2 linked regions of the Homo sapiens genome follow. The protein of the gene in region 1 purifies or fractionates together with the protein of each later gene. This does not show direct contact. Each region holds a gene or a part of one and is shown on either strand. Other genes may lie near its edges.

Region 1 (3,500 bases):
GCATTGTGTGCCTAAATCTGAGCTGCTTCTTGGATAGAAACCTTCGGGTTTTCCCTTAGTGCTCCCCTTGGGGTCCCTTTCAAAGCCCCCCACCCCCCACTGCATGCTCAGGGAGGAGGGTTCTCTGGACAGAGGTGTGAATTGTGTCTCTAGTTCCCAGGGGACCACATCTTTCCGTTGTTTGTCCCTTGCCTCCATCATCCAGGGTTGGGGAGCTGCTGGGTAACCTTTCTGGGGAAGGGGAGAGGCTCGAACAGGGAGGGAGGGGAGAGCTGGTCTCAGGGAGGAACAAGTGGCATGACCTAAGGCCCAAAGGCAGAGATATTGACTTGCCTCGTCATTGTTGTTGAAAGCCAGGAAGCCAAGCTGCTGAGGGTGGCAGCCTATGACAGGAAAGCGCCTCTCCCCTCTCTTAGGGCACCCTACAATATCAGGCGCAGCTCTACATCAGGGGACACCGAGGAGGAGGAGGAGGAGGAGGTGGTGCCATTCTCCTCAGATGAACAGAAACGGAGGTAATGGAATGGTGCCTTTTGGGCATCCCGGGGGGCAGGGCAGGAGCCTGAGTCTTCGAAGACTGCTGGAATGAATTGTACTGGTTGGGGTGACAAAATGCACAACACGTAGGCCATCAGCGGTAGCCCACGGAGCATGAGAATAGGTGTCATTCTCTGAGTGCCAGAACCACCCACTCAGTGTTGGACCAGCTGAGGGGCCCTTGAGAACCTTCTGTGGGGTAGAACCTAGGTAATGTGGGTCCGGGGAAAAGCCTCCTCATGTGGAGGCTCTTCAGGGCTCTAAATCGGTTTGTTAGAAAGGGCCCTGAGACAGTTGAACAAAAATATTCAGGGAGAAGCCACCTGCACAGTGCCCTCTATCTGCATGATCTGCATGCCTTGGGGGTTCTGAATGCCCCGGACCCCAAACTGAGCTCCAGGCATGCACAGCAGTGGGAGTGTGCCCCATGCTGCTGAAATTCTACCCTAGTCTCTGCGCCAAGCTGCCCTCGTCCACACAGGCCAGCAAAGTTCCATGGACCCTTGCCCCTCCTCAGTCCTCTGTCCATGGGGACTGACCACATACCACCCAGTGCTGGTGAACTATGACAGGAAGGGTTTGTTAAGCACCTTTTGTATGCCTTTGGCTTGGGGCCTGTACAGCAGTTGGGCCCTGAGGAAATAAAGCCCTCCCCTCCCTGGGCTCAGCCAGCCACCAGGTCCATATCTGCTGACCCATCTGTGGCGCAGGAATCACAGCAAAGCCCCATTGCCAAAGGCCCTGGCAGATTGGCTATCCTCAGGGAACAGTTCACAGTGGCAGGGGCCCCCAGGCCTGGGTGGAGCAAGGAAAAGAGCCAGAAGCTAGGAGCTGCCTAGCATTGAATGCCAGCTCTGCCACCTGCTAGGTGAGTGCTCTTGGGCAAATAATGAAAGCTTCTTGGACTCAGTTTCCTCATCTGTAAATCACAGAGGATACTAGCGTCTACTTTCCTGGATTGAGAAGAGCAATAAGCCAATGCGAGGATGTTGGCATCTGGCGCAGAGCCGGGCACATGCCACATGCTCCATAAACATGGGCTGCCCTTCCTTCAGGTTCTACATTTCCTTTGAATAGTCCTTGGAGCAGGTGCAAATCTGGTTTCTCTCACCCCTTGCCTCCCTGGGGTGGCCCTAAGTCACCCCGAGTCCATCCCAGGCTAGGCTGGCAGAGCATGTCCAGCTTGGCACCCATCAGATGCTCCCCCATCCCGTGTCACCCCAGGTCAGAGGCTGCAAGCGGTGTTCTGAGGAGGACAGCTCCCCGGGAGCACTCCTACGTCCTGTCAGCGGCCAAGAAGAGCACTGGGTGAGTTGCCACCAACTGGCTCCAGGCTCTAGGACAGCTCTCCTCTCCTCAGAGCTCCAGCCTTCTCTGGCTGATGAAAGGGTGGGTGGAGAGATCACCCCCAAGGGCCTTCCTAGCTGAGCCTTCTCAGATTCTCAGATGTACTTTCTAGAAAATGGAGAGGTCTGGCGGCTACCACCAGGGACAGTGAAGTGCCGGGAATGGAGAGGGCCCAGGACCCTCTGAGGTAGAGCGGTCTTGATGTCACCTGCCCACGGGCTCTGCCCAAAGCATTGCCTTTCTGCTTCCTTTCCAGCAGTCCTACCCAGGAGACACAGGCACCGTTTATCGCGAAGAGGTAAGTGTCATCAAGGGACACCTTGGAGGCCTGTTACTGGCCACAGGAAGGCCTTCCGTCAGCAGGGGTGTAGTGTGGGAGCTGTGGAGAGGGGATGTGGATGTGGGGGACTACTGTCCCTGAGCAGGGGGAGTTGTGAGGGGCTGGGGGCTTCTGTCTGGAGGCCTGGCAAGCACCTGGGTGGCTGTGGTAGCATATGTGGTCAAGCTCTTCCATTTGCCAATGGCTAATGGGGCTGGGCCCCTGACCCAACGTGGAGCATTTCCAAGGCCCTCTGGGAGTTGTTCCCCTGCCCCTGTTGCTTGCCTGATGCCTTGCCTTCTGCTCTCATCCAGGATCAAAACCTGGGCCATCAGGAGAACTTCCCCTGGGAGGTGACTGTGACATTGGAGATGGGCCCTAAAGGGTGAACAGGGCTTAACAGGGAATGATCAGAACGTCGGGATACTCCAGCTGAATGAGGGAGGGGTGTCACCATTAGTTGAGACAGGGCACCTTCTGGAGGAGGAAAATATTCGGGGGAAAGCAAGAAAGAAACTTCTGGAAACTTGAATTTGAGGGACTTCCAGTTGAGTGGACAGGGAAGGCCTCTCTCTGTGCTGAGGTGGCTAGCTGGGGACTGCAAACCCAAGAGAAGACAGCATGCCAACTGCCCCAGGCAGAGGGCCCCAGTGCACAGGCCCGGGGTGGGACTAGCTTGCTGTGTTGGAAGACCAGGAAGTTGGCAGGAATACAGAGAGCAGGGATGGTGGCAGCACAAAGGAAGTGACAGAGAACGGGGGGCGGTGGGGGGGTCTTCCTGGCTGCATTTGGTTCCTGTGGTTTCTGTAACGCAGTACCAAAAACTGAGTGGCTTAAAACATCAGAAAGGGATTCTCTCCCGGTTCTGGAGACCAGAAGTCTAGATCAAGGTGTTAGCAGGGTGGGTTCCTTCTGGAGGCTTTGAGGGAGAAACCATCCCAGGCCACTCTCCTGGCTTCTGCTGGTGGTTGGTGATCCTTGGTGTTCCTCGGCTTGTACCTGCATCACTCCAGTCTGTGCGTCTGTCTTCACATGGCCTTCTCTTCTCTGTGTGTCTGTGTCCAGATTTCCCTCTTCTTACAAGGACAGCGGTCATTGGATTTAGGACCCATCCTACTCCAGTATGACCTCATCTTACCTGATTACATCTGCAAAGACCCTATTTCCAAATAAGGTTACAGTCACAGGTTCCAGGGGACATGAATTTTGGGGGGACACTATTCAACCCAGTATGCTGTCCTTATCCTGAGCTGGAGTCACTGAACCCCCAGCCTGGGCCACCTCTTGGCCGTGATCC
Region 2 (3,500 bases), on another chromosome or scaffold:
CCTTCAGCAAATTTTATAAATTTTGATTCTATATTACTGTGGTGACAATTACTTCCTATTTTCTATTGTGCTAATGAAGGCATGAGAGATGTCAGCATATGTATCTATGTCACATACTTAGAACACATAAGCCCCCAAATTTCAAGTTATTTAAATTTAAGTATCTTTTTACTTCTGATCATTAATTAACTCAATCAATTATTAATTAAAAAAATAACTAGCTTTGCCAATGGTAGTTAAAGATTAAGTTTAGACACTCTTTTGGAATAACTACTCTTTTTCACTATGGCCATTTGCTTAGCATTTGGCCTTAATAAAAAATGACAGGTGAAATCCAACTCCATCATTTTATAGATGTGAAAACAGGCCTACCAGGAGAGTTAAGTAAACTAGTCAAGGTCATATAACTGATAAACGGCAAATCAAGGTTTTCTTAGTGTATTTTAGTGTATTTTTCATTATACAATACGTAGTGATGTATCAACTACAGATACATACAGAAAGTAATACAGAAAGCAATCACCATAAAAGATATCCTGTTTAAGTAAATTTTGTTTTGGTGTATTTTGAATTTATTCATAGGGTTGCAATGAATTTTGCTGAATGTAATGATGCTACAATAATACTACTGAGGACATTGTTAATTACACAACAGTAGCAAAATGAGAATCTTAGGACAAAACATTTTCTATATGTTACATTTTAATATGATAGATTACATATAGTAAATATTCACATTCAATCCAATAAACACTTGATTTTTTTTTTTTTTTTTGAGACAGAGTCTTGCTCTATTGCCCAGGCTGGAATGCAGTGGTGCTATCTTGGCTCACTGCAACGTCTGCCTCCCGGGTTCAAGTGATTCTCCTCCCTCAGCCTCCCAAGTAGCTGGATTACAGGCACCCGCCACTATGCCTGGCTAATTTTTGTATTTTTAGTAGAGATGAGGGTTTCACCATTTTGGCCAGGCTGGTCTTGAACTCCTGACCTCGTGATCCATCTGCCTCGGCCTCCCAAAGTGCTGGGATTACAGGTGTGAGCCATCGCGCCTAGCCTAAACAATTTTATGCATAACACTGAGTCTCCCACTTAGAAGCAACTGCTTTTATCCTGTGTTGCCCCCTCCTTGCTATGAGCTCCTTAAAGTTAAGCAAATTGGTGAGCTCGAAGGCAAGATTATTATTAAAAGATATATGAATTCTAGCTTAGTATCAAGACCTTTGTCTGAATCAAATCATGATTTTTTGATACATTTAAAATGTGAAATCAAATCAACTAGTTTGTCATGTTACAGAATTTGTTTTACTAACTTGATAAAATACATAAATTACTAAAAAAGTAAAATGATTTAAAAGGTAAATAAATTATAAGATTTCAGTACTTAAAAGGACAATGGTATGCCAAAAGTTTTAAAAAGTTAAGTTTTACAGACCTCTAAGACTCATAGCATATAACACTCCCTAAATTTAAGTTTGACCACAGAATTTCTGTGGGACAAAGCATCACCAAGGACTGGTGCTGGAAGAAATACACTTTGGGAAATATTCTATTATGCCATTGTTCAGAGGACTACAGCTATGCAATGTTATATTACATCCAATTTGCATCTGGATTTAAAATCCAGACAGACATAATAGATATACATGAAATAAGATAACATTAAACAAGCATACAAAATATGTCAAGGCAATTTATAACTATATATAACTATAAAATTGATAATGCTAAGAGCCCAGAAAGGCAAGACCACAGGAGGCTGAGTTAAGAGTAGTCAAGGAAAATTCTGTAATAGTCTTAATCCATAATAGTTTTGAAACTGAAATGCTGATACCTGTCATTGGGTCAATAGCAGCTAAATAAAATGCTAAGGATTTGACATATGTTCACTTAATTCTCCCATAACTCTGTGAAGTACATGTTATTTCTACTTTATAAACCTCAGTTAAAAACTTATCTATGTAGTTAATACCACCGAACTATATACTTAAAAATGGTTAAGATGGTAAATATTATGTTATACGCATTTTCCCACAGTAAAAAAAAAAAAAGGACTCACTTGTCTAGGTCATATAATGTATGTGAAATTCTTACAATGACTTCTACTCCAGCTTCAGTTGCCAGTTTCTTAATAGCTGCGTCTCGTTCCTTTCCAAAGGGCTCAGAATCATACTCAATTGAAAGTTTAGTAATGTTCCATTCCTAAAGTAAGAGAAAGGGGAACAATGTACACCAATTGTAATAGTTATTTTTTCTATTATAACGAAAAGTGAAAAAGCTGAAAATCTACATATCAAAGGATTATACATAAATCAAACTTTGAATATGCAGGAAAAAGTAAACAATTTATCAATTAAAAAATACATAAGTAATGAATGCATAACCCATTAGATTCTAGGCATTATGCTAGGCAACAATCTAGCAAAGCAATATGCTTAAAACCAGCTCTTATACTAAATGTGTTTGTAGAGCACTTTACTTTTTCAAATTACTCATACTTACATTATTTCATTTGAGCCTCAAAACAACACTCAGAGTTTGGCACTTTGGTTAGTATTTCCATTTTGGAGATAAGTTTATTTTTAAAACTTAGGGACCTGCCAGAGTTCACAGAAAGCCAGACCACCTGAATTTATGTCTGTTGAGTCTAAGAACTGGTCTTTAACTAACCTTTGATATTGATATGGTATAAGCTGCCTGGCTGAGGTCGTGTGTGTGTGTGTATGTAAATATTTTCTTTCTGATTACTAAAAAACGTTAACTGAAAAATTTGGAGATGGTAATAATAATAGCAGTTACTTATTATCAGGAGCTATGTTAATAAGTTCTGTACATCTCCTTATACTGATTTTAAATGAGGAAACTGTGACTTAAAGGAATTGATTTTTCTTAAGGAGAAAGTTTTTTTTTTATTCTAAGTCTATTCTGATTTATCTCATAAAGAAAAAATTCTACCATTATTTAACTGCCTATATGGTAACATACTATAATTCACCAAACACCTCCAGATTAGACAAGGGCTATTCCAATGGTGGGTTTAAAAAAATTGCTATTCTAGGCGGCGTGCGGTGGCTCATGCCTGTAATCCTAGCACTCTGGGAGGCTGGGGTGGGTGGATCACCTGAGGTCAGGAGTTCAAGACCAGCCTGGCCAGCATGGTGAAACCCCGTCTCTACTAAAAATAAAATCATTAGCTGGGTATGGTGGCACATGCTTGTAATTCCAGCTACTCGGGAGGCTGAGGAAGTAGAATCACTTGAACCCGGGAGGTGGAGGTTGCAGTGTGCCACTGCACTCCAGACTGAGCGACAGGAGCGAGGCTCCATCTCAAAAAAAAAAAATTGCTATTATAAACTTTACAGTATATATCTTTACCTTTATGCACACATCTTACAAATTATAGGGTATTTATCCAATTTTTTCCTAGAAATAATCCCTTGAAAAACAACTGATGGATCAAAGATAAGCACATTCAAAATTCTGATAGGCTGTCAAATTATGTA

The links. The genes of interacting proteins can lie anywhere in the genome.
Region 2: the proteins of ZNF185 (region 1) and CRY1 purify together in Homo sapiens (co-immunoprecipitation; one large-scale study listed by IntAct). This does not show direct contact.

The regions. Positions count from the first base shown.
Region 1 is NC_000023.11:152,918,567-152,922,066, forward strand, and holds part of ZNF185 (zinc finger protein 185), read left to right. Parts: intron 1-416; coding exon 417-515; intron 516-1,761; coding exon 1,762-1,845; intron 1,846-2,140; coding exon 2,141-2,182; intron 2,183-3,500. UniProt on the Homo sapiens protein: May be involved in the regulation of cellular proliferation and/or differentiation.
Region 2 is NC_000012.12:107,003,050-107,006,549, forward strand, and holds part of CRY1 (cryptochrome-1), read right to left. Parts: intron 2,200-3,500; coding exon 2,057-2,199; intron 1-2,056.